2 separate regions of the Homo sapiens genome follow, and region 1 is reported to be linked to region 2. Evidence: microRNA targets listed by miRTarBase, many of them from high-throughput screens and not tested one by one. Region 2 holds a microRNA gene; the other region holds the end of a gene's coding sequence.

Region 1 (12,081 bases), not on the chromosome of region 2:
TTGGTTTCTCTTTTTCTGAGACATGGCCTGGTTCTCTCACCCATGCTAGAGTGCAGTGGCACGGTCTCGGCTCACTGCAGCCTCCGCCTCCTGAGCTCAAACCATCCTCCCACCTCAGCCTCCCGAGTAGCTGGGACTACAGGCATGTGCTACCACACCTGGCTAATTTTTGTATTTTTGATAGAGATGGGACCTCACTATGTTACCCAGGCTGGTCTTGAACTCCTGGGCTCAAGTGACCCGCCCCCTTCACCTCCCAAAGTGCTGGGATTACAGGCATGAGCCACTATGCCCAACCACTGGCTATGGGATTCTAAGAAAGTATAATTTCTGTGAGCCTCAATTTCCTGACCTATAAAATGTGATTAATATTATCACCTATTACGGAGTGTAGTAGGGGTTAAATGAAATAATGCTATTTAAAGTACTTGGTTCAGTGCCTATCAAGCACCAGTTAAGTGCTTGATAGACGTTAGCTATTATTAGATGTCTTGGAATGCTTGGAGTGTAAGGGAGGGAAAAAAGTGATAGCTAAGCTAGGTGTGATAGTGTGAGCCTATAGTCCCAGCCACGGTCCCAGCTACTCAAGAGGTGGAGGTGGGAGGATCATTTGAACCTAGGAATTTGAGTGCAGCCTGAGCAACATTACAAGACCCCATCTCAAAAAAAAGTGATAACTGCTGTTTCTCCATGTCATTTCAGTATCTTTTCTATTTTAGACAATTTAAACAAGTTTACCTTTTTTTAAATTTCATTTCTAAGCTAAGAATTTTGAAATTGCTTTTGATAATTTTCTGTCAGAAATGGAGAAGGTAGAGGAGATGCCACATAAACCACAGAAAGATGAAGATCTGACACAGGATTATGAAGAATGGAAAAGAAAAATTTTGGAAAATGCTGCCAGTGCTCAAAAGGCTACAGCAGAGTGATTTCAGCTTCCAAACTGGTATACATTCCAAACTGATAGTACATTGCCATCTCCAGGAAGACTTGACGGCTTTGGGATTTTGTTTAAACTTTTATAATAAGGATCCTAAGACTGTTGCCTTTAAATAGCAAAGCAGCCTACCTGGAGGCTAAGTCTGGGCAGTGGGCTGGCCCCTGGTGTGAGCATTAGACCAGCCACAGTGCCTGATTGGTATAGCCTTATGTGCTTTCCTACAAAATGGAATTGGAGGCCGGGCGCAGTGGCTCACGCCTGTAATCCCAGCACTTTGGGAGGCCAAGGTGGGTGGATCACCTGAGGTCAGGAGCTCGAGACCAGCCTGGCCAACATGGTGAAACCCCATCTCTACTAAAAATACAAAAATTAGCCAGGTGTGATGGTGCATGCCTGTAATCCCAGCTCCTCAGTAGGCTGAGACAGGAGCATCACTTGAACGTGGGAGGCAGAGGTTGCAGTGAGCCGAGATTGCACCACCGCACTCCAGCCTGGGTGACAGAGCGAGACTTATCTCATAAATAAATAGATAGATACTCCAGCCTGGGTGACAGAGCGAGACTTATAGATAGATAGATAGATAGATGGATAGATAGATAGATAGATAGATAGATAGATAAACGGAATTGGAGCCATTTTGCTTTAAGTGAATGGCAGTCCCTTGTCTTATTCAGAATATAAAATTCAGTCTGAATGGCATCTTACAGATTTTACTTCAATTTTTGTGTACGGTATTTTTTATTTGACTAAATCAATATATTGTACAGCCTAAGTTAATAAATGTTATTTATATATGCATTCAAGTTGTACTTGTCATCAGTTTGGGGGAATCCTTATGCTAAAAGCTATGTCTTCTCTACAGGAAAAAGCCCAGGTTCCTGTCCACTGAGCCACACTGCCCACCAGACCACAAACTCAAATCAGACTTTAAAACCCTGCTCAGCCACTTATCACCTGTGAAACCTTTAGCAAATTAATTAACTTTTTTATGCCTCATCTATAAAGTAGGAGTAGAAATGGTACCACCTCGTAGATAATATGGAGGAGTTTCTGAGCCAATACATATAAAGCATTTAGGACAGTACCTGCTATGAGTAAGTATTTAGAAAATATTAGAAGAGAGAAAGAATCTCACATATGGAGGTCTCATAATGAATTAAACATTACCACCTTTTTATAAAATCAAGCTTTTTTTTTAGTATCTACATATTGAAAAGTGTAAACTTAGTAAATACTACTTATTTTAAGACTATGGAAAAGGACCTTTTCTTGGATGGTAAGAAGTTGCTAAAGGCATCATGCCAGACATGATTTTAACTAAAATTAAGAATATATGATATAATTAAATATTTCCATGATAAAAGGATTGCATCCAAATGTTTAAAATCTACTTAGAATGACATCAGTAATAATAATGGTTGCCTTTTATCTGCTACAGGTAATGAATAATACCTGCTACATAGATCTAGAATGACTAAAGGTGATGTCTCTTTTTTCCCCCTACCTTTTTAGTTTTAGAACTTTAGCAGACTAAGGCTAAAGAAATACCACAATCAAATGGTCCCAACATAAGCATGTCTGGCAAGGCCTGTGGTATTGGGGAATGAACATGAGCTTTGGAGCCACACACACTTGGGTTTAAATTCTGGCTCTGCCACTTCTCCCCTAACAAAAGCCCAAAATCTTACTGAGCCTAAGTTTTCCTATTTATAAAATAGAAAAGATGGGCACAGTGGTGTGCACCTACAGTCACAGCTATTCAGGAGCCAAGGCAGGAGGATCACTTGAGCCAAAGAGTTTAAGTCTGTAGTATGCTATGATCACACCTGTGAATAGCCATTGTACTCCAGCCTGGGCAATACAGGGAGACCCCATCTCTTAAAAAAATAATAATAACAGTAGCTAAAATAGAAATACCTGCCTTGTGAGGTTTAAAGGTACTATTGTATTTGTGAAGTGCACGGCATTTAGAAGGCATTCATTAAATAGCTCTTGTTATGGCTTTGATCCAAAATTGATAAATCTTCCTCATTTATTAAGAAGGTATGTAATTTGAGACCCAGCACAATGGCTCAGGCCTGTAGTCCTAGCACTTTGGGAGGCTGAGGCAGGCAGATTGCCTGAGCTCAGGAGTTCGAGACCAGCCTGGGCAATATGGCAAAACCCTGTCTCTACTAAAAATACAAAAAATTAGCCAGGCATGATGGCAGGCGCCTGTAGTCCTAGCTACGCAGGAGGCTGAGGCACGAGAATTGCTGGAACCCAGAAGGTGGAGGTTGCCGTGAGCCGAGATCATGCCACAGCACTCCAGCCTGGGCGACAGACGAGACTATCTCAAAAAAATAGAAGCTATGTAATTTGTTATTTGGTGCCAAGATACAGATTTCTAGCTTTGAGTCAAAAGCAATGTACTTATCACCCTGTAAAGTTAAGCACATTCACCTACTTTAAAATTGTAGTAAAATATATGTAACAAAATACGCTATCTTAATCTTTTTAAAGTGTTTATGGTTAAGTATTATGTAGTCACTTTGTTTTGCAACCAATCTCCAGAATTTTTTCATCTTGCAAAACTGACTTAACCATTAAACAACTCCCCATTCCTCCCCACATCCCCTGACAACCACCATTGTACTCACTCTCTCTGAATTTGACTAAGGATTCATATAAGTGGAATCACAGTATTTGTGACTGGCTTTTTTCACTTAGTATAATGTTCTCAAGATTGTCCATGTTGTAACGTGTCAGAAGTTACTTTTTAAAGCTGAATATTCAGTTGTATATACCACATTTTGTTCATCCATCAGTGTGACACGGGTTGAGTAATGCTGCTATGAACATGTGTGTACAAATACCTCTTGAGGACCCTGCTTTCAATTCTTTTGGGTATACACCCAGAAATGGGATTGCTAGATCATATGGTAATTCTATTGATTGACTGATTGAGATGGAGTCTCACTCTGTCGCCCAGGCTGGAGTGCAGTGGCGTGATCTCAGCCCACTGCAAACTCTGCCTCCCAGGTTCAAGCAGTTCTCCTGCCTCAGCCTCCCAAGTAGATGGGATTACAGGTGCCCACCACCACGCCTGGCTAATTTTTGTAGTTTACTTAGTAGAGACAGGGTTTTGCCATGTTGGCCAGGCTGGTCTCAAACTCACCTCAGGTGATCCACCCTCCTCAGCCTTCCAAAGTGTTGGGATTACAGGCGTGAGCCACCACACCCAGCCTCTACTTTTAAATTTTTGAGGAACTGCCATAGAGGGTATACCATATTACATTCCACCCACAGTTCATAAGGATTCCAATTTCTCTACATCTTTGCCAACACTAGTTATTTTCTAGTTTTTTTTTTTTTAATAGTAGCCATCCTAATGGATGTGAGGTGTTAATGTCATTATGGTTTTAATTTGCTTTTCCCTAATGATGAGGGGAAAGATGTTGGGCATCTCTTCATGGACTTGAATAGACATTTTTTAAAGAAAATATACAAACAGCGAATATGCCCCTTTTTGAATCAGGTTGTTTGGTTTTTGTTGTTGAGTTGTAGGAGCTCTTTATATATTCTAGATATTCACCCTTATCAGATATGATAGGTAAATATTTTCTCCCATTCCTTAGGTTGCCTTTTCACTCTGTTGATTATGGCCTTTGATGCACAGAAGCTTTTAATTTTGATATAGTCCAATTTATGTTTACTTCTGTGGTCTGTACTCTTGCTATCATATCCAAGAAATCATTGCCAAATCCAATGTCATGAAGCTTTTCCCTTGTTTTCTTCTAAGAGTTAAATGGTTTAAGCTCTTACATTTAGGTCTTTAATCCATTTTGAGTTAATCAGGCACATTCACTTTTAAATTACCCTGTTAAGATGTGATTCTGATAAATCTAAAATTTCTGAGCCTTGTTTAAATAGCATATGAGAATAAATATAAGTAGTATTGTCTGTTTTTTCTTTATGCCATGAAAGCAAGTAATGGTAATTATTTTTATTATTTGCAATATAATATGTACTTAGTTATTTTTTAAATTAGTTGGGGAGTGGAGGAATTACCTTAAAGCAGTCTTGTCCAAATGCCCTCCTAGGAAGCCTTTCTACAGTTTTCTAACACAATTACAATCCCAGTGATGAATGCCGTGATGGTTAATACTGAGTGTCAACTTGATTGGATTGAAGGATACAAAGTTTGATCCTGGGTGTGTTTGTGAGGGTGCTGCCAAAAGAGATTAACATATGAGTCTGGGCTGGGAAATATCCACCCTTATTCTGGTGGACACAATCTAATCAGCTGCCAGCAAATATAAAGCAGGCAGTAAAATGTGAAAAGGAGACACTGGCCTAGCCTCCCAGCCTACATCTTTGTCCTGTGCTGGATGCTTCCTGCCTTCGAACGTCGGACTTCAGGTTCTTCAGTTTTGGAACTCGGACTCGCTCTCCTTGCTCTTCAGCTTGCAGACAGCCTATTGTGGGACCTTGTGATCATGTAAGTTAATACTTAATAAACTCCCCTTTATATACATATATATACACATATTACATATATATACATATTACCTATATACATATTACATATATCTATATATATCCTATTCTGTCCATCTAGAGAACCCTGACTAATACAGATGCTTACTAGTTAGTGAATTCGTGTGTTTCAGTACTGTTATTATAAACACTTCTTGGAAGCTCACTTCTTTAACCGTTCTTCATGGTTTATTTAACTGATTAAAAAGTTTTTTTGTCATGAATGTTTTCAAATACATACAACAGTAAAGAGGACAGTATAATGAAACCCATACACATCACCTAGACCCAAGTTATTAGATGTTGCCATACTTGCTTAACTATACCTTCCTTTTTCTCTGAAGTCATCTAACCACATTGCCAATATCACACCTCACAAAATTAATAGTAACTATCATCAAATGTGAAATTCATAATCTAAATGTCTCAAAAATATCTTTTTATTGCTTGCTCAAATCAGGGTCAACACAAGGTTCACACTTGACATTGAGTTGTGAATTTTTAATTATAAATGTAATACATGCGGGCCAGGCGCAGTGGCTCACACCTGTAATCCCAGCACTTTGGGAGGCCGAGGTGGGCAGATCACGAGGTCAAGAGATCGAGACCATCCTGGCCAGCATGGTGAAAGCCCATCTCTACTAAAAACACAAAAATTAGCTGGGCGTGGTGGCGCATGCCTGTAGTCCCAGCTACTTGGGAGGCTGAGGCAGGAGAAATCACTTGAACTCGGGAGGTGGATGTTGCAGTAAGCCAAGATTGCGCCACTGCACTCCAGCCTGGCAACAGAGTGAGACTCCATCTTGGAAAGAAAAAAAAAAAAAGGAATACATGCTCATTGTAAAAAAAAAAAAAAAAAAGATTCAAAAGGTTCAGAAAGATAAATGAAAAGTGGAATTCCCCCTCTCCCAATCACCCACTTTTCACACTCCACTGTTAAGTTTCTTGCATATCCTACGGTTTTTTAATGCACATATAAGCATATGTCTCTTCACAAATGGGATGATACCATATATACATTCTATAATTTAAGAAAAAATGGCTTTCAGTATATCTAGATCTATCTATAACAGCTGTGAGGTATTCCACTACATGGATGTGGCAAAATTCATTTAACTAAAACCAAACTAATAGGCATGTGTTGGTTGTTTTTACTGGGCCATTAGCAACAGTGCTATAGTAAACATCATTTTGAATAAATCTCTATACAATTGTTCAAGTACGGAGGGATAAATTTCTAGAAATAAAATTTCTGGATGAAAGAAAGCATGGGAATGACTTTTATTTGGATACATATCCATCAAAAGTGGGAGAATGCCATTTTCCCCACAGCCTCACCAATTCTTCACCAATCTGACAGGTGGAAAAAGTGTGCCCCAACTACCTTTTAGAGTTTCTCTGCCCAGCAGTTTCCAGTGACTGTACATGCAAATGGAAAAGTCCCATTAGAAATAGTTGACCCAACACAGTTGCAATCAAGTATTTGAGCTAAGTACACACCAGCAAATTACTAAAAATATCCAGAAAAACTCAAGCTTCATAAAACCTCAAATTTCAAAAAAAGGATGCTAAAATCCACATAGGTCACTTGTGTTGGCCTGGCCTAAACAGACCCCTCAAAGGAACTTTGGAGGGAAATTGTTTCTCTAGGTAAGGAATAACAGCATAAAGGGAAAAAAATTAAAATTGTTAGATACAGGATTCTCTCTAGATCTGCCCTGTCCAATATAGATGCCACTAACCACGTGTGGCTATTAAACACTTAAAATGTGGCTAGTGCAACTGCAGAACTGAATTTCTAATTTTATTTAATTTTAATACATGTAAAAGTGGATACTTCAGTTATTGGAAAACAGTGAGTTATGTTTCAAACAACTTGAGTATGTAAATACATTTTCCACAGTAAGTTTTAAGAAATCTAAATACAGATTAAGTACGTCTGATGAAAACCTAGCATCTGAATTGACAGGTTTTTTTTTGTTTTGTTTGTTTGTTTGTTTTTTGTCAGGGGTGGGGACAAAGTTTTGCTCTGCCACCCAGGCTGGAGTGCAGTGGTGTGATCTCAGCTCACTGCAACCCCTGCCTCCTGTTTAAGTGATTCTTGTGCCTTAGCCTCCCAAGTAGCTGGGATTACAGGTATGCGCCACCACGCCCAGCTAATTTTTATATTTTTAGAGATGGGGTTTTACCATGTTGGCCAGCAATCTGCCCACCTTGGCCTCCCAAAGTGCTGGGATTACAGATGTGAGCCACCATGCCTAGCCTTGACATGTGTTTTTAAGTGTAAAATATACCAGATTTTTGAGACTTAGTATGAGAAAAAGAATATAAAATATCTCTTTTTTTTTGAGACGGAGTTTTGCTCTTGTTGCCCAGGCTGGAGTTCAATGGTGTGATCTTGGCTCACTGCAACCTCCACCCCCTGGGTTCAAGTGATTCTCTGGCCTCAGCCTCCCTAGTAGCTGGTAAAGTATCTCAATTTTATGTTGATTACATATTGAAATATTTTTGATACACTAAGTTATATAAATTATTAAAATTGGCTTTCAATGGGTTTTGTTAGAGAAGCTACTAGAAATGTTTTAATTATGTGTATAGCCTGTACTATATTTTTGTTGGGCAGTGCTGCTCTAGATATGGTAATTAACTGTCTTTTTCTGGGGAGATGTTTCATAGCATTCTCCAGAATCTTAAGTCGAAAACAGGGTATGAACCACAATAGAACTATAAAATATACTCTCTAGCTCCTTCTGGAGGCTGCCCTCAAAAAACCTTTTAAAGAAAGATAACTGACATTTAAAAAATAAGACATTTTACCAAATCACTATCACTGTCTCATCAAAGGACAACTTTCAGCAGCTGTGTCTTCTGATGTTCATTCTTCAGCTGACCAACTTGGAGCAGGCCTAGACTTGCTGGTATTGAAACTGTTAGTTCCCAACAAGGGTTAGCCTTCCAGAGGAAACTTAACAACTTGAGAACTGCAGCAGCAGGATAACCTCTCCACCTGCCTACCTCTCTGTCAAAAAGCAAGAGCCTCTGTTACAGGACAAAAATCCTGAAAGGTAGTGAAACTGTTGCATGTCTAATTAAAATCTAAAATTCACAACATTGACTAAAGCTGCTCACCTGAGGCCAAGCACAGTGGCTCATGCCTATATTCCCAGCTCTTTGGGAGGCCAAGACAGGTGGATCATCTGAGGTCAGGAGTTCGAGACCAGCCTGGCCAACATGGCAAAACCCCATCTCTACCAAAAATACAAAAATTAGCTGGGCGTGGCAGCACACGCCTGTAATCCCAGCTACCTGGGAGGCTGAGGCACAAGATCACTTGAACCCGGGAGGCAGAGGTTGCAGTGAGCCAAGAACACACCAGTGCACTCCAGCCTGGGTGACAGAGGAAGACTCTCTCAAAAAAAATAAAAAACTAAAGCTGCTCACCTGAGGAAAAAAATGGGAATAGCACAAAAATCATGTAGAAGTAAGGAAATTTTAAAGATTGTATATTTTTTCATAATAAAGTACTCCTTTAACCATTTTACAAGTTGGTAAAGTATCTAAATATACATGTATACAAGTTCGTAAATGTGTTAGTTGAAGCTGGGTGTGGTGGCTCACACCTATAATCCCAGCACTTTGGGAGGCTGGGGCAGGTGGATCGCTTGAGCTCAAGACCAGGTTGGGCAACATGGCAAAACCCTATCTCCACTAAAAATACAAAAATTAGCTGGGTGTAGTAGCGGGCACCTATGGTCCCAGGTACTCATGATCGCCTGAGCCCAGGAGGCGGAGGCTACAGTGAGCCAAGATCACACCACTGCACTGCAGCCTGGGCAACAGAGTGAGACCCTGTCTCAAAAAAAAAAAAAAGTGTTAGTTGCTTGCCATGTTGAGAACAGTATGATTTCAGTGAAGGGATGACAGGGCTACTCTAATGCATATAGAAAAGTGTTTAAATGTACAGTGGACCCTTGAACAATGTGAGGGTTAGGAGTGCCTACCCCCTTGCAGTAGAAAATCTGAGTATAACTTTTGTCTCCCCAAAAACTTAACTACTAATAGCCTAATGTTGACTGGAAGCCCTATCAATAATATAAACAGTCAGTTAATACCCATACACACATATGTGTTCGTGTGTGTGTGTGTTTGTGTGTGTGTATATATACATATACTGTATTCTTTTTTTTTTTTTTTTTTGAGACGGAGTCTTGCTCTGTTGCCTAGGCTGGAGTGCAGTGGTGCAATCTTGGCTCACTGCAAACTCCACCTCCCAGGTTCAAGCAGTTCTCCTGCCTCAGCCTCCAGAGTAGCTGACATTACAGGCATCCGCCACCACGCCCCACTAATTTTTGTATTTTTAGTAGAGATGGGGTTTCACTGTGTTGGCCAGGCTGGTCTTGAACTCCTGACCTCAAGTGATCTGCCTGCCTCAGCCTCCCAAAGTGCTGGGATTATGGGCATGAGCCACCACACCCAGCTTATATACTGTATTCTTACAATAAAGTAAGCTAGAGAAAAGTTACTAAAATCATAAGGAGGAAAACATATGTTTACTATTCATTAAGTGAAAGTGGATCATCATAAAGGTGTTCATCTTCATCATCTTCCTGTTGAGTAGGCTGCAGAGTGGGATGAAGAGGAGAGCATGGTGTTGCTGTCTCAGGGGTGACAAAGGTGAAAGAAAATCCACATTTAAGTTGACTGCAATTCAAACCCTGTTCAAGGGTCAACTGTACATGTATATAGAAAGTGTATGTGTAGAGTGACAACATTGAGAGTGCTACAGCCTGAGGCAGCAGAAGAGCAGCTTTCCTTTATGTCTCAGGATGTATCATTTCTGTGTTTCTCAGAAAGCGGAACCTCATTACATTCTTATCTCTTTCATAAATTGCCTATCAGCTTCCAGACTTACAAGACCAGAAATTTATAACTAAGACAGAGGGGTTAAGACAGGCAGAATTAGGAGAGAGGTGGAGGTGTGTGGAGATTTAAAAAGCACAGTCAAAATGATCACTTCTTTGATTTGGCTATGAGAGTTGACATATTTTGACATTTCAAGTGATGCTGATTCTCAAAAGGGAGCATAAGTTAAAGCAAGTTTGAAGATCACTGTCCTAAATCCACATGGCTTAACACAAGAATGGGGTAGTACAATAAAATGTCAGCTCACACCTGAGCAAATCAAAATTCTAGGAATTCTTTGTACTGGAGGAGATAACACTGAATAACATGGCCCCTGCAAAGTAGTCTACTGAGTTCCTTAATCAGTGTGAGTTTAGAATTTAAATTCGACAGATGCAAAGTACCTACCTAAAGCATCCCTACACTTACCACCAAAAGTAGGTATATTTGAAAGGTACTCAGAGCATTTCACACGTAGTGATCTTACAAGGCAGAAAAAAACGTTCTTAGGAAGCTTCTTTACAGCCACTTTTCATCCACAAGGAAGGCAGCAGCCATAACCATTTTTACAAAATAAGTGGAATCAATAATACCAAAAAGCCAAATTATTTAAATGTTTGAGTCATCTCTTCACTTCACCACTGGCCTCAGTAATTTCTGGACCCATTGGAGCAGCAGAGTTGAAGATTAGGGAGAAGTTGGAAATTTCCTTAACCTGTTGGCAGCAGTCACCACATAGAAATGTTTCTTGAGGCAAGGAGAGAATAAAAGAAAAGAAAAAGCATGTATTTTAGACCAGTTGCCTTATGAAGAAACAATAAAAGGATTTAAGTGAGTCCAGCCACTGGGGTTGGTTTAAATCTGATACCTAAAGGGAAACAAGTTTCTAAAATAATTATAGAATAGTCACATGACTTTCAGGGGCATGTTGGGAGTAAATATGAAGTGGGAAGATACATCATCCTGCCCTCTTTTTTTTCTTTTTTTGGGGAGGGGGTAGGGGGGTCAGGATGGGGTCTGGCTCTGTTGTCCAGGCTGGAGTGCAGTGGCGTGATCTTGGCTCACTGCAACCTCTACCTCCTGGGCTCAAGCAATCCTCCCACCTCAGCCTCCCAAGTAGCTGGGACTACAGGCAACCACCACCACGACCAGCTAACTTTTGTCTTGTTTGTAAAGATACAGTCTCACTAGGTTACCCAGGTTTATCCTGCCCTTTTCACATGAAAAATGGAGCACCCTAGAACAGTGTCTTATTTTTATTTTTCATCAGCCTACATCATGCTTTGATAGAACAGTGTTTTTCAAATTGTGATTCACAACCGAGCAATGGGTCATGAAATCAAATTGGTGGGTTGTGAACAGCATTTAAAAAATAAAACCAAGTGGCACAGAATAGAAAATATCAGAATACATCATATTCTGTTAGAGAAAATGTTGTGATTTTTTTTTTAAACAGAGATGGGAGTCTCCCTCTGTCACCCAGGCTAGAGTACACTGGCGTGATCACGGCTCACTGCAGCCTCAAACTCCTGAACTCAAGTGATCCTCCCCATTCAGCCTCCCAAATAGCTGGAACTATAGGTGCAGGCCACCACGCCTGAGTCAAATTTTTGTTGTGTGTTTCCCGGTAAGTGTGTACATGTATAGGTATTCTTGTGTACTGGCTCCATACATAAAGGGTTTTGTTTGTGCTTTTGGATCCCCAGTGAGGATCTAAGTCC
Region 2 (15,689 bases):
CCACCCTGGTGACCCCTCCTCCTGTGGCCTACGGCTTGTCAGGCTAATGGGCTCAAAACTGACCAGGTCTTCCCCACAAACCTGGTCCTCATGTTGACAGGTGGCTGCTTCATCCTCACAGTTGCCCAGACCAGAGCCTCAGAGCCGTCCTGGACTCCTGCCCAATGTCCACCTGGCCCTGCTATCCCCTCTCCACCACACCTGACATCCAGTCAGTGGTCAGACTCCACAGCTGGGCCCTGCCCACATGGCCCAAGTCCACCCTGGCCTGGCAAGCTGCAATGGCACCCAGGAGATGATGCCCTACACCCCAGGGAGCCTTCCTGGGAGTCGGCCAGTCACCTTCTGTGTGCCTGGCTGTGGCCTGCTGCTCTGCCCTCGCCATGCACCTGCTCCATGATGAAAGCTCATGCAGTGCCTCATGAGGGAGATGGCAGCCAGTACTTGCTAAGTAGATAGATGAGCCAGACGTGTGGCTGTCTGCCAGCCTGCTCTAACAGCCTGACCCATGGACTGGGTCACTAAGAAACAGAAATTTCCCACAGGACAGTAGACCTGTATTTCATCCAGTTCAACCTGTGGCTGGAATTGCCCCAAAAGTGGTGGCAGTAGAGTTCCCACAAGGGAGTGCCCCACACCATCCTGAGATGGGGCTGGTTAGGATTCTACAGATTGAGCATGCCAGGGTGATTCGCCCAGAGCATTTATTCGTGGGGCTTTTGTACAGAGTGGGCTGCAGCAGTTCTTGCAATAGGCAGTGAGAGAAATGAAGTTCTCTCTAGGTATGTCCGTGGGGGAGGGGGTTGGTGAATGGAATTTATATGAGGGTTTGAGGAATCTGGCTCAGGCTGAGTCCAGTTTCTTTCTGTGTTTTGAGCAACAACCTAGTTACTGTCATCTGTGCCTGGGAACGTTCATGGCTATGGCTCGGGTTCAAGTCTGCAGAGGAAATTATACAGTTGGCGAAGTCACAGAGTGGCCAAGGGACTCTGTTTCTCAGTCAGCACTGGGAATGAAAGTGGAAAGGGGAAGCAGGGGTACGTCACAACCTCCAAAATCAGGGTGCCCAGCACGCTGAGGTTCTGGTAAGGGGTTTCTTCCAGACTGCAGACTTCCTTCCCGCTGCCTTCACACAGTAGAAAGCTGCACAAAGCTCTTGGGGTCCCTTTTATGAAGGCTCTGTCCTCATGACCTAGTCACCTCCGAAGCACCAACGCCTTGGGGTGAGGATTTCACATGGGAGTTAGGGTGCACATTCAGTTTAACACGGCAGGGATAGGACCAGTGCTCTGAGGGTGTCTGGGTAGCTGCTGGTTCATCCAGAAGTTTACTGGGTAATACTCAGAAATTCCACAAATCATTAAGGTCATTACCTTGTTAAGCTCCCGATATGGAATCGCGACTAGCAGTGACCAATTGGCGGTGTTAACTAGGCGCATCTTGTGTGTTTTCTTTTTTCTTTTTTTATGAGACAGGGTCCGCTCACTCGTTCAGGTTGGAGTGCAGTGGCGCGAAGTCCTGGGTTCGAGATCCTCCCGCCTCAGCCTCAAAGCGTTGGGGCTACAGGGGCGCGCGCGCGCCTGGCCCATTTTAACTTCTTATTTTTGAGACAGTCTCGCTCTGTCGCCCAGGCGGGAGTGCAGTGGCGCGATCTCGGCTCACTGCAACCTCTGCCTCCCGGCTCAAGTGATTCTCCTGCTTCAGCCTCCTGAGTAGCTGGAATTACAGGTGTGCACCACCACACCCGGCTAATTTTTGTATTTGAGTAGAGACCGGGTTTCACCATGTTGGACAGGCTAGTCTCGAACTCCCGACCTCAAGCGATCCGCCCGCCTCGGCCTCCCAACTTGCTGGGATTACAGGCGAGAGCCACTCCGCCCGGCCCCGTTTTAACCATTTTTAAACTTCCAGTTCAGAGGCGTTCCCGCGCCCGGCAGGGTAGGCGCAGTGCGCAGGCGCCCAAAGCCGACGTGGAGGTGATGCGCGGGAGCACAGATCCGGGGCAGTGCGCTGCGCAGAGGCGCGCGGCGAAGCCGAGTGGGCGCGGGAGTGACGTCACGGCGCGCGACGCGGAGGCGGGGTCGGGCCTGGGTCCGACGGTAGTGGGTAGCGGGTCTCGGGTTGCGGGTTGCAGGTTGCAAGCCGCAGGCCCCAGGCAACTGCCTTCCCGGCGCCATGTTCGGCTCCAGTCGTGGAGGCGTGCGCGGCGGGCAGGACCAGTTCAACTGGGAGGACGTGAAGACTGACAAGCAGCGGGAGAACTACCTGGGTGGGTGCGCGCGGTGGGCGGGCTCCGGGCTCCGGGCTCCGGGATCCCGGGCGGGCGCTGGACTCACAGCGTCTACGTCCGCAGGCAACTCGCTGATGGCGCCGGTAGGCCGCTGGCAGAAGGGCCGCGACCTCACCTGGTACGCCAAGGGCCGGGCGCCATGCGCGGGCCCGAGCCGCGAGGAGGAACTGGCAGCCGTGCGGGAGGCGGAGCGCGAGGCGCTGCTGGCCGCCCTGTGAGTGTCCGCGGACGGCAGCGGTCGGTGCCTGGGACGGCGCTGCCGGGGCAGGGTGGGGCCGGGGCCGGGGACTGGGGGTCGGGCTGGGCGGGAGCGGGGCTGCGGGGACTCGCGCGGGCGGGACCCTGAGGACGAAGGCTGGAGTGGTGAGGACCTGTGGTGGGAGGAGGTCCGTCCGTCCTGACGCCTGCCCCGGCCCTCTCGCAGTGGCTACAAGAACGTGAAGAAGCAGCCCACGGGCCTGAGCAAGGAGGTAACTCCCCGGGGTGGGGGGCGCGTGGAGGGCCGTGGGTGTGGGGCCGACTCGAGCGCTCCCTGTGCTCTCGCACCTGCAGGACTTCGCGGAGGTCTGCAAGCGGGAAGGAGGCGACCCCGAGGAGAAGGGCGTGGACCGGCTGCTGGGGCTGGGGAGCGCAAGGTGCGGGCGGGTTTCCAGGGGAGGGCAGCACTGGGCTCGATTGCTCGGGTGAGGCGGACCCCTGCCGTACTGTCTTCATCGCCATGTCCCTGCAGTGGCTCCGTGGGCCGCGTGGCGATGTCCCGAGAGGACAAGGAGGCCGCCAAACTGGGGCTGTCTGTGTTCACGGTAATCCCCCGCCCCGCCTGACCGCAGCAGGGGCTAACAGGGGTGGGGCGGGGCGGGGGCACTGAACGGAGCTCCCCGGGGCGCTGCGGGGCGTGGTGTGGGGCCGGCCCGCAGACTCCTCCGCAGAGCTCGCTTCTCCCGCAGCATCACCGCGTAGAGAGCGGCGGGCCCGGGACCTCGGCAGCCTCGGCCAGGAGGAAGCCGCGGGCGGAGGATCAGACGGAAAGCAGGTGAGGCTGTGCCACCTGGGCTAGCTGTGCCCCGGGGTGGGGGGTCTCGGGAGGACCGGAGCGGCTCCCACTCGGGCAGGTGGCAGCTTCTCTTGGCGCACCGGCCCGGCGGGTGGCCTGCCCTACTTTACTTCCTGTCCCAGTTACTCCTAGGTTTTTCTCTAGGGGAGTTTCTCGGGTCACCCTTGAAGAGAGGTCCTAAGTACTGGCAGTGGTCGGGCGCTGTGCCGTGGGAGGGCACTCAGGACCTGGGGCGGGGCCTTTTCCTGCCGTGGGTGGCACCTCCAGGGCTTCTCCTGGATGGTGAGCCTGGGCCTGACCCTAAGAGTGGCCTGGTGGGTGCAGGTAGGAAGGTGTCAACCTGCCAAGGGCACGGCTGGGGTGGGGCAGGGGCGTGCTGTGGAGATGGGGATATTGCATCTGTTTCTAACCCACGTAGCCACTGGCCACGTGACTACGTAACTGAGGAGTGGAATTTGTAGTTTGATTTAACTGATTTAAAGACGCACTTGTGGGTGGTGGCTTCATCTGGATGGGGCCTGCTTGTGTTCACTCTCTTGGCTTGCAAGACTAGGGTCTGAGGCACACCTTGTATCCTCCTTGTAGTTGTGAGAGCCACAGGAAAAGCAAGAAGGAGAAGAAGAAAAAGAAAAAGAGGAAACACAAGAAAGAGAAGAAGAAGAAAGACAAAGAGCACAGGCGGCCAGCTGAGGCCACCTCCTCTCCCACATCTCCTGAGAGGTATGCCCTGGTCCATATCTGCCTCTTGGGGGTGGGGGCCTGGTTGACTCCTTCCGAGTGACTGACTGCCATTGGTCTCCCCAGGCCCAGGCACCACCACCATGACTCCGACTCCAACTCCCCCTGCTGTAAGAGGAGGAAGCGGGGACACAGTGGGGACAGGAGGAGCCCGTCTCGCAGGTGGCATGACAGAGGCTCTGAGGCCTGATGGCTGGACCCTGCTCACTGCTGTTGTGGGACCCTGAACCCTCCCTTCACCTTGCTTGCCTCCTGCCTCGGAAGCTCCTTGGGTGTGGGTGAAGCCCGAGGCTGCTCCTGTGGAAGTGGCTCTGGGCACCAGCCTGTGGGGCTAAAGACTTGACAGCTAGCTCTGGAGCAGCCGGCTTCCTGGAAAACCTCCAGGTTTCGCATACCAGGGATGGCCCCTGGCTTGGCCTGCGAAGGTGAACCTGCCCAGATTTATCAGTAGAGGCTGGACTCCCTCTGTGTCCTGCCCATGGTTGCAGCAGCCATGGGCCTATGAGCGGTCTAACTGTGGCCAAGTATGGTGACCTCTATTTTTCTTTATATTGACTCTTTGTATTTCAATAAATATATTTTAAAAGGAAGGTATATCAAATTGGAAGGTCAGTATCAGGGGTTAATGAGATCCCACTGGAACGTCGGAGCTGGGGTCTGTCTCCCAGGAGTCTGAGACCTGGTGATTTTTTTTTTTTTTGAGTTTCACTTTTGTTGCCCAGGCCGGAGTGCAATGGTGTGATCTCAGTTCACTGCAACCTCCGCCTCGCGGGTTCAAGCGATTTTCCTGTCTCAACCTGAGTTGCTGGGATTACAGGCGCTGCCACTACGCCAGGCTAATTTTTGTTATTTCTTAGTAGAGACGAGGTCTCACCGTGTTGGCCAGGCTGGTCTTGAACTCCTGACCTCAGGTGATTCGCCCGCCTTGGCCTCCCAAAGTGCTGGGATTACAGGTGTGAGCCCCGGTGCCCATCTGATTCTTAATGTCCTGGGGGAATGTAGTCCTCCCATGTGTGCCCAGAGCCCCCACCAAAACCCAGGGAGGGCTGAGGCCCTGGAAGCAGGTGCTCAGCTGGCAATGTGGGAACCTGGGGCAGGGAGCCCTATCCCTGCGACAGGTGAGGTCAAAGACTGCAGTCTGTGGAGGCACAGCCTCAATTGGGTGTGGGGGTTGGGGAGCTCCTCCAACTGCCTGCTACCCCAACCCTCAGCTCCGCTTCTCCAGAGGCAGTGGGCTGGGTGTCCCTTCTGCCTGACCCTAAGAAGGATCAGGGCTGTTCAGGATGTGTGCGGCCACCAGGCTGCATGGCATAAAGACAGATGGCACCTGGGCTGCATCACAGTTCAATGCAGCGTTGCAGTGTTGGGATCAGAGGCATGAGCTCCCTCACCTGGCCTGTTTCTGATTTCAAGGGAAGTTATGCAGACCTTCCTCAGGGCCCTGGCCAAGGTGTAGCTTGTGGCTTTGACCTCTGCCCTCACCCTCGGGTGGCTACTGGAGTAGAGACTGTGCTGTCTTGGGTGCTGTCAAGGGGGATGAAGGTTGGGCCACCTAGCCAGGGCAGCCCTCTCTTTTGGGACTCTGCCCAACAGAAGGCAGACCTTAGACCTGCTGATGGCCCCATCCCAGAAACAGGTACCCCCAGACTGGCAGCCCCCTGCTGCATGGCATCTTGAGGAGAGGTGGGGGCTGTGCCCACTCAGGCAGGGACCATTCCCTGGTTGGCACAAAGCCCTATGTATGCTAGCAGTGGCCCTGCCCCATAGCCAGCTATACAAAGTGGGGTTCAGCAGCAGGCCGATGGAGGGAAGGACGGAGGCTGAGGTCTTCCATGGTGCCTGCTGACCCCTGCCCTGTATGGCCCAGGTCTCATTGGCTGGGCCCGACAGGACTGCAAACGAGATCAAGGTCACTGTGGGCAACCATGCTGGAAGAGCCTCTCACACAGACACAGAGAAGTGCCTGCACACTCAGGAGGGAACATGGGGAGGGTGTGGACTGAGGTGGCGGCCCTAGGCAGTCACCTGTACTTCCTAGAGTAAAGCTGGCTGATGCACCCACCATCTCCTGGGGGCAGCATGCCTGTGTGGAAGCACTGGAGAGCCGGTGAAATAGTTAAGAGATTTTATTCTAATAGCTATAATTACAGTGCTTGTTTGTCGAAATGAAAACTGAAAACAAGTATACAAAACAGTTGATTACTAATCGTGTATTGAAAGCAGTAAGAGGTTCCACGACACCAAATAGACCAGTTCTGAGGTTTCCCCAAGATAAATTTAACAGCTCCAGCTTCAGTGTTTATCAAAATACAAAAGAAAAAAGTAGAGGTTGTCTTTTTCGATGGCAAATCGGACCCTTGCAGGCTGAGGGAGAGAAAGCTACATCACACACAGAGGTGGGGTGCTCCCGAGGGGCTGTGGGTCTAGGTGGACCGCCTGCCCGGCTTGCACGCGCTCCTGCTGGTGAGGCCCCAGACATCCTGCCAAAGTGTCTGAGCGAGCACGAGTGTTGGGGACGACGGACCCACTCTGGCCACACGGCGACCGAGGGACAGATGGGGCCCTGCGTCCCATAGGCTGCCTGAAGGTGGGTAGGGCGGCCTGCGGCATAGTGGGGTGGCTGTGGGCTCCCAGCCTGGCCCCTGGGAACCGTGGGAGCACAGGGACAAGCACATGGCTATGGAATGCAGGGTGACCCAAGGACAAGCGAGTTGCGGGGATCTCTACTGTGACCATGCAGAATTGATCGCAGTCTGCTGCGCCACCACCACCTCATGTTCCCGAGGGGAACAGCTGGGCTGGCGACTGGCATCCAGGCCGTAACTGCAAATCTATGCTAGGCGGGGTCTCCCTTCTGTGTGTTCAAGTGTTCTCGACTTGGATTCTTAACTATTTTAAAAAATGCACTGAGTTTGGGTTAAAAACCAACCACCAAAATGGATTTCAACACAGCTCTAAAGCCAAGGGCGTGGCCGGCTCTCCCAACACAGCGACTCCTGGAGGCCAGGTGCCCATGGGCCTACATCCCCTCTCAGCACTGAACAGTGAGTTGATTTTTCTTTTTACAATAAAAAAAGCTGAGTAATATTGCATAGGAGTACCAGAAACTGCCTCATTGGAAACAAAAACTATTTACATTAAATAAAAAGCCTGGCCGCAGGCTGCGTCTGCCACATTTACAGCACGGTGCGATGCACACGGTGACCAAACCACGGAGGCAGCTTCTGGCACTCACACCACGAGCCGCACGTTTGCCACATGAGAGTAAAGCAGAGGGCAAGAGGAGTGAGAGGGAGGGGGGTCGCGTTCACTTCTGGTTCCGGAGCTGATTGGACAGCCAGTCCAGTCCTTCATAGAGCCCGTCGCCGCTGGTGGCGCAGGTGGCCTGAATGTACCAGTTCCTGTGGCGTAGTGAGTGCAGCCCCAGCTTGTCTGTGATCTCGGCCGCATTCATGGCGTTGGGGAGGTCCTGGGGGAAGGAAGGGTTGGTGGGAAGGGCTGTCCACAGGACAGAGAAAGGGGCCCCACCAGCCTCCAGTAACCCCTACCACCAGGCGGAACCCACACTGGCTCCTCACATTCCCCAGGCTGGCCCGGGCGCCTACCTGCTTGTTGGCGAACACCAGGAGGACAGCATCCCGGAGCTCGTCCTCGGCCAGCATCCTCATGAGCTCCTCACGGGCCTCGTTCACACGCTCTCTGTCATTGCTGTCCACCACGAAGATCAGGCCTGCCGGGCAGCCAGTGTCAAATGGTCATGGGAACACAGCCCCCCTGCCGCATCTATGGGCATCGATGCCCCATCTATGGGCTGGCCCCCCCTCTCTAGAAGCAGGAGTGCCCATGGGACCAGGCCCCAGCCACTTACCTTGTGTGTTCTGGAAGTAGTGGCGCCACAGGGGCCGGATCTTGTCCTGGCCACCCACGTCCCACACAGTGAAGCTGATGTTCTTGTACTCCACGGTTTCCACGTTGAAGCCTGGGTGCGGGATGCAGGGTGAGGCCTTGTACCTTGGCCCAGCCCAGCCCAGCCCACTCCCTGCTGGCCCCCACCTCACCTATGGTGGGAATGGTGGTCACGATCTCACCCAGCTTAAGCTTGTAGAGGATCGTGGTCTTCCCTGCAGCATCCAGGCCCACCATGAGGATGCGCATTTCTTTTTTGCCAAAAAGGCCCTTGAAGAGGTTGGCGAAGATGTTCCCCATGCTTGTGGACAGGTGGAAGGACACTGGCCAGGGACACCTGGAGAGACAAGGTGCTCCATGTCTGGTTCTGTGCTGCCCAGCAGTGGTTGCTCAGAACCCACCCACCCAGGGATGCACCACTGCCTCACCCCACCTCCTGGAAGCCTGCAGGGAAACAGGGAAAGAGCCCTGCCTCCCATGCCCCCCAAATCCACCTCAGGATGGGGGCTGAGGGAAAATGGCTGAGTCAGGAATTGAGAAACTGTTGCCCTCATCTTGGGAAGCTGTCCCCACAGCTGCATGGCCAGAAAGGCTGCCTCATCCCAGCCTATGCAGGAGGGGAGGCTGGCTGCCTGAGGACTGGCTTCCAGGTGCGTGCAAGGCTCCTCTACACCCCAACACAGAACCTTCCAGGGCCAGAGAGCACCACTCACTGTGCCTGCCCACACTCACAAGGACCAGAGCACACAGGGCCACGCCAGACTCAGCAGGACACCTTCAGGGACACACTCCCATGAGGACACAGCCTCGATGGGGCACGCCCGCCATGTCTGCCCCACACCGCAAGGGTAGGGGTTCCCTCAGCAGAACACAAATATCGGGGACAGCAATTAAGTCAGCTGGCACCCACCATCAGAGCCCTGCGGAGACTCCAGCAGGAAGGGCCTCCACTGCCCAGACGCCTCTGTGAGGACACTGAAGTTGTTAGGCTTTGGCCTCACTGGCCAGTGGGCAATTTCACGAATCAGGTGATTTTATCCCGAACAGGGACTTTAGAAAACACTGGTCACTTTCTGAAACAATGACTGCTTCTTCACTGCACCCGCAAGCGGGGCTTACCCCGAGTGAGGAAGGCTTCTGCCTTCAAGAGGACATGCCAGGAGCCTGTGAGCACACCCACCCCTCATCAGACCTCCTCCACCAGGGGTTCCACACACAGGTGGCTTTTGGCTGAATCACAGCCATGACTGTCCGCTGGTGACTCTCTCATCCAGTCACCCCAGCACGCTACGGCAAGGAAATGCCTCTTCTCCATTTCTCAACATCAGCAAGAGCCCACACATGCCTGTGTGTTTCAGTGGGTGTGAACTGGCCGCCCGTGTCTGATTTAACACTGCCATCATCCCAGATGAGCCACAGAACCCCTTCAAGCTGGATCAGTGTCCTTTGGACACTTTGCTCTTGGTTTTGAACATGTCACCTATTCTGAAATTTAAATGAGTTCTGAAATTTATAAGGACCTTCACTGTAGTGTTCCCTTTTTGGGGACGGCCAGGTTTTCTAAGCCCAGAGGAAGACCACCACCCATGGAGCACAGAAGAGACTGAATACCTGCCCTCTCAGTCCACTCCTGCAACCACTACCAATGAAGACACCAAAATGACACACACGCCTTGAAGGGCAGAGAGAAAAGGGAGGAAGACCTTGGATGTGATGATTGACCAGGCAGAGAAAACTGGACCGCCTGGGACCCAAGGGATGAAGCTGGGACTGCCTAGGGCAGCAATGTCCAATCTTGGCTACCCTGGGCCACAATGGAAGAAGAATTGTCTTGGACCACACACAAAATATACTAACACAACAGCTGGTGAACCAAACCAAAACAAAAACCCCCAAAATCTCAATGTTTTATTAGAAATTTGTGTTGGGTCGGGTTCAAAGCCATCCTGGGCCACATGCGGCCTAAGGGTTGGACAAGCTTGGTCTAGGGGAGCAGCTGCAGCAGGGCTTAGGCCTGCGCTGAGCCATGACAACACACTTGAGCCATGAAATTCCAGAATAATTCCTGAGAGTTCTATATGCCCCAGCAGATCCACACACAAGCAACTGGAGCTCCGCCCACCCCCACCCCCCACCAAGAGACAGGCCTGTCTGCCTTTGAAAGGCCACCAACATAAGAGACCCAAATATAAAAGGAATCTGCAAGGAGGCAACCAAGACAGGAGACTGAAGACAGAATACTATTTTAACAAAGGACAAGGAGAGAAACCTGATAGATACACAAATAGCTGAAAAGGAAAATTCAAAATGAAGGTGCTCAGAAGGCAGAACAAAAACAAACAGAATGAAAAAGGAAGATGAGGAGTAACTTAAGATATCAACCAACAGAAACCCTAAAAAGAAAGAACGTACGAAATTACGGGGTGAAATTTTTCCCTGTTCCAGAGTGGGGACCCAGGAATCTGGGCTTCGGCCTCAAAGGGCTGAAGCGCAAAGCCAAGGACCTAGATGAGACCCAATAAAGGTGCAAGGTGGACTCCAGAATGCACAGGGGCAAATGACACCTCTGATGCCCCAGAGAATGGAAGACTCTGAAACACTGCTTTCGAAACCCTTTAATTCTATACCCAGCCAAAGTATCCAACAAGTGTTAGGGGAGAATGAAAATAACTCCCAAACTGCAGGGCCTCAGATCTCTCACATGCTCCCTCCCTAAGAAGCTCCCCCAGGGAACCAGGGAGAGGATGCGAGCCCACAGCAACGTGGAGAGAGAGCAGCAGCCTAGCCAACCCCACATGGAGAGAGAGCAGCAGCCTAGCCAACCCCCTCAGACTGGAGCAGGAAGTGGACACCTGCAAGAATGGGGCACGCCACCTACGTATTCTTATTATGGGGTTGGGCAACTCTAGGCAATGCGGAAAAACTAATAATGACAGGTTCGCATGAAAAACCCAAGCATGAAATGGAACGAAAAGAGGGCCTTTTATGAGTTACTCCAGGAAAACATATGGTGGAGGATACTCAGGGAGTCCTGATGTTGTTATTACTAGGGGGTTGGAAAGCTGAGGCGAGGGTGTGTGGTGTCAAAGGCTTGTTAACTGTACAAGTTAACAAGTCTAGGAGGAATAAACCTAGGACACCAAGTCAGCAGGGACTCAGGAATAAGGGTCGCCTGCCAGTTGGGCAGAGGCAGCACCAGACTGCCACGACCACTGAAGCACAGCACTTGGGAGAATTGACAGTAACACCCAGCCACTCAGGGGAAGGGGTGTCACACCGTCACCAACCCCCTCGACCCCAGCACTGTCCGTGATCCACACATGCCTGCTGCCTCCTCATGCCCGGGGCAGTGCCGCCAACCATGCCCAGGAGATCATGCAGCCTGCAGGCAGTGGGGTTTGTGATGCCAGTAATCCCAGGCCCTCCCCATTGGTGGCTTTTTTTTTTTTTTTTTTTTTTGAGACAGAGTCTCACTCTGTCATCCAGGCTGGAGTGCAGTGGCTTGATCTCAGCTCACTGCAACCTCTCAGGTGCGATCTCGGCTCACTGCAACCTCTGCCTCCCAGGTTCGAGATTCTCTTGCCTCAGCTTCCCGAGTAGCTGGGACTACAGGCGCGTGCCACCACGCTGAGCTAATTTTTATTTTTATTTTTAGTAGAGACGGGGTTTCACCATGTTGGTCAGGGCTGGCCTCGAACCCCTGACCTCAGATGATCAGCCCACCTCGGCCTCCCAAAGTGCTGGGATTACAGGAGTGAGCCACCACGCCCGGATTTTTTTTTTTTTTTTTAACAGACCAAAGCGTTAAGAGTCCCCAAAGGAGGGAAGCCACCCTGCAATGGAATGGCAGAACCAGGATGGGTGAACCTGAAGTCTCAGGTGTCAAGACATCGGCACACAGACAGCTTGGTCTCTCCTACCGACAAGCACATCTGTGGCCCTGCTGCACATATGGGCAGAGGGTGGCTGGCACGTCCTGCCTCGGCATGTTCCAGCATCCCCACAGGACCCTATACCTGGCAGCCCCTACATCATTTACTGCTTCTGTGACAGATGGAGACCCAATAGAGTTTCCTAAGAGGGAGAAAGAGTCCACAGCAACCCCCACCCTCAATTCCAGGGCCTCTTGGTACGGGTCCTAACTTGTGTCATGCCCAGGCCAGGTGCTGTCACCCTTTCTTCCACCAGAGTCCCTGCACACAAGCCAAAACCCGCTTTTCAGGTTCATCGGAATTATCCTGTGGTAGGAGCAAACCTGACTTTCTCAGAGCCTTCCTGCTTGTACACAAGGGGACCCCTCACACTTTGAGAAGGGGCTGCCCAGCAGGAGGATGCCAGGAGCCACCAGTGGCTACTTCTCTTTCCTGACCACGCTGTGGGCTCCAACTCTGAGGAAAAAAAGTCTTTTAGGAAGAATGTTTCTTTCTTCAGTGAGGACCACAGACCAATGGTAAAGGTGGCCTTCAGGCATTACACCAAAGAACGGGACAGTCAACTCTGGCAGCTACATTCCCCGACACCTCACTGTGCCTGAACAGGGGCAGGGAGAAAATGTAGCTCTGTGAGTTCACATCCGTTTTGTGTCCATGAATGGATCCAACCAAACTGGTCCAGATGCACATGGGGTCCAGATGCCTCTGTGGCCTGTACCCAGACCACCAGCCAGTACTGTCCTCGGTCCCTTGCAGATCTCAGGGATACTTTGGCATGAGTCAGGGAAGGGAACAGGCGCAGGCGGAAGGTTGATCATCTCCCCCAACCTGTCAGAGCTGGTGTATGTAACAGAATCTCTAAGTGACCTGAACTGACAGGAACCAACAGAAAGACAGAGACACCTCCAACCTCTAGCACAGGACAAACAAGCTCCAGGTCCAAGATTCTGTTCTGCTGACTGACATCCACGAATGGGGCTCACATGATGTGCTCTGCTTACATGGAAAGCCAGTGACATCGAGAGTTCTCTTTTTGAGACAGGGCCTCACTCTGTCACCCAGGTTGGAATTCAGTGGTTCGATCACAGCCCATTGCAGCCTTGAGCTCCTGGGCTCAAGCGAACCTCCCACCTCAGCCTCCCAAGTGGCAGGGAATGCAAGGGCAAGCCACCATGCCTAGCTGATTTTTAATATTTTCTATAGACAGGGTCTCGCTATCCTGCCCAGGCTGATCTTGAACTCTTGGGCTCCAGTGATCCTCCTGCCCTGACCTCCACAGTAGTTGGGACTATGTGTGTGAGCCAATGCACCCCACCCAGAGTTCTTTTTCAAAAAGCTTTTATTAAAGTCAAGTTCACTGACAGATAAATTACACACATCTTTATAGTTCATAATCTCAGTTTTACTATCTAATCTGAGGAAACTGAACAAAGCTGATGACTTCCTGAAGGGACTCATGTACATTACATAACATTTTAAGAATTTCTGAGGAACAACAGCCTTTCAACAGTCATACATATAGTGTAGATGATCAATTTCGTGAAAGCCTGTGTTCATGTCCCACACGAAGATTTTCATTTTAAGGGAGTCCTTAAAATGAAATGCAATATGGCCATTTATTCTCACCTGCACAAGCTGCTGCTTGTTTACCACACCAGCCAAATAAAGCCTATGGTCATCACGCTACCCGCCAGCCAAATGCTCCATTTCTGTAGGCCTGACATTTTTCTGTGACTGAGCACTGCATTACATTTTGTCACTATTTTACCAAAACTCACGTAAAGGGAAAACTAAATGTGCCGATACTGGTGACAGGCAGACACATCTCACAGGCTGGCACAATTGTGACACAGGTGCGAATCAAAAGGCATGCTCAGAGGGGAAGACACATGACCGAGACACTCCACGCACCCAATCATGTTGAAGAGACTTGCAATCATGCAGATTGAGACAAAAGGATGGCACACACATTCTAGAACTCTTATTCTGGGCTGCATCTGAAGGCGAGTTCCACTGGGAGTCTGCTGTTTTTTTTACACAAGTTTCAGGATGTTTTTAGAGGAGCTCATTAGGCATTACAACTCGACACAGTGACCCCACAGCCATTAGGAGATGAGGGCTGCGAGGCACAAGGGTCCCCTCTAACACATCTGCTGCTGGCCTTGAGTTAAGGGAGGGCATTATCTATCAGGTCTGACTTTCAGGTGGGGCAATCAGTGAAATTCAGTTTAGATCACTGTTTGTCAGCTTAAAATTCAAGGTGATATCTTAAATCAGTTTGTGTACTGACAGCCAGAAATGAATTCCATTTTTGTGATTCCACCTCATGGACTGAGTTCTGGGACTATAGCTAATGTGAACACCAAAGAACCGTTGCCCACTAGCTAATGTAAACACCAAAGAACCATTACCTGCTTATTTGTGTATTTCTTGCTTCTTGGTATTTGTGAAGTGTTACTTCAAAGCACCTCACCAAACGTAAGTCCTTCTGAAATCTGCAGATGCACAGCTCTAACCACACACCAGGTGGACTCCCAGGGCTGCTGAAGGCAGTGTCTCATGACCTCTGACCACAGCTACAATGAAGGACTTGCACTGGCTGTGCACATGGCATCATGGCAAATGCTCTCCAGTCCTTTGTGCTGCCCCAGCCCTGCTCTCTCAGTGATGGGACTCTGGTCTGTCACTGAGCACAAGGCCCTCTAGAATAAAACCCCTGTTTCCTGGCCTCCCTGCAGCTGTGCACACCCCGTGAGTCAGCTTTGTCCATGGATGCTTACACAAGGACATGGAAGGGGCAGCAGAGCCTGGGGCCTACCAGTATTTCTACTCTGGCAGGCAGGGTGCAGTTGGCCTCTACCTGGCCCCCAGTGCAGTGGCTGATGGACTGGCCACTGGGAAAACCAAGACCAAAAACGCAAACCCACATTAGCCCCCAACACTGAAACTCACAACACAAGCTGAGAATAAGGAACCTGCAGGGATTTAACACTGCAACGAGGAACAGCTAAGAAACACAGCACCCCTACCCCCACCTCTCCCTGCAGGTGACAGCTGCCGGGAGAGTACTTCAACCAGCCCCGTCCCCAGGGCCAAAGAACCAGCAGTTTGAGGTCAGTTTGGTGCCCACAGGGGAGACCCTGTCTCCACAGGGCTTCTGACCAGAACCCCAACTCCTAGGTGAGGTCCCAATGCCCTGGATCATGGCCCAGTCCAATTCTGCCAGGCGCCTATGCTGTGCCCAAGGGCTCTTCCAACTTGAGGGCAGGCACTCCCAGGGGCCTGGGCCCTTGTGCTTCACTCTCTCCCATGCATGCTAAACAGCGAATGACTGTGCGATGGCACAGCACCAAGCCAAGAGGGCAGGACGAGTGTCCACATCCCAACCATCTGCTAGCAGTGCGTTCCCCTGTACCTCACATGGAGGCCGCTGGTTCCAGCAATGACCAGAGGCTGAGTCCACAGTGCCCATCTCAGCATGGTCAGCGCACACGTAGCGGAGCTATCTGATGTGACAATGCTACCCTGGTTTTCAGGGGAGTGGCAAGAACCCAGGAAGAGAGGGTGATACTCAGTTTTGCCAGTTCACTTCCTGAACTACACACTCACCACAGACATGCTGGGCACTGAGCTACTGCCAGGCACTGTTCTGGACGAACATAGGCCCACCATTGTGTGGGGCTGGGGGATCCAGGGCCCTGAAGGCCCCTTTCTACACCACTTGAAAAAAAAAAGGGGAACTGGAACAGCACACTGCTGGTGTTGCTGT

Evidence for each region. The annotated mature microRNA hsa-miR-3620-5p reads GUGGGCUGGGCUGGGCUGGGCC and lies in region 2 at 8,097-8,118, opposite strand. An mRNA with a match to its seed (bases 2 to 7 or 8) in the 3' UTR can be bound and repressed. Matches are read on the target gene's strand: a 7mer-m8 pairs with bases 2 to 8, a 7mer-A1 pairs with bases 2 to 7 and ends in A, and an 8mer does both.
Region 1: miRTarBase lists ORC6 as a target of hsa-miR-3620-5p. The part of its 3' UTR that is shown has no 7-base or 8-base seed match.

Annotation. Positions count from the first base shown.
Region 1 is chr16:46,696,657-46,708,737 of GRCh38, forward strand. It overlaps ORC6 (origin recognition complex subunit 6), which reads left to right. Exons shown (of 7, transcript NM_014321.4): 7 at 802-1,738. The coding sequence ends at 929. It overlaps MYLK3 (myosin light chain kinase 3), which reads right to left. Exons shown (of 13, transcript NM_182493.3): 13 at 5,626-11,107. The coding sequence ends at 11,048. Among named protein-coding and RNA genes, the nearest start is that of ORC6, 13 kb to the left of the region's middle.
Region 2 is chr1:228,089,714-228,105,402 of GRCh38, reverse strand. MIR3620 (microRNA 3620) reads right to left here and starts at 8,140; the gene lies at 8,062-8,140. It overlaps ARF1 (ARF GTPase 1), which reads right to left. Exons shown (of 5, transcript NM_001658.4): 2 at 8,141-8,325; 3 at 7,951-8,061; 4 at 7,688-7,812; 5 at 6,191-7,551. The coding sequence starts at 8,288. The coding sequence ends at 7,390. C1orf35 (chromosome 1 open reading frame 35) reads left to right here and starts at 2,078. Exons shown (of 8, transcript NM_024319.4): 1 at 2,078-2,269; 2 at 2,354-2,504; 3 at 2,715-2,760; 4 at 2,843-2,925; 5 at 3,021-3,093; 6 at 3,238-3,323; 7 at 3,930-4,064; 8 at 4,149-4,672. The coding sequence starts at 2,176. The coding sequence ends at 4,272. RefSeq lists enhancers at 3,312-4,032, 5,143-5,382, 6,968-8,167, 7,254-8,223, 8,224-9,193 and 4 more and silencers at 2,314-2,583, 2,744-2,913, 3,164-3,243.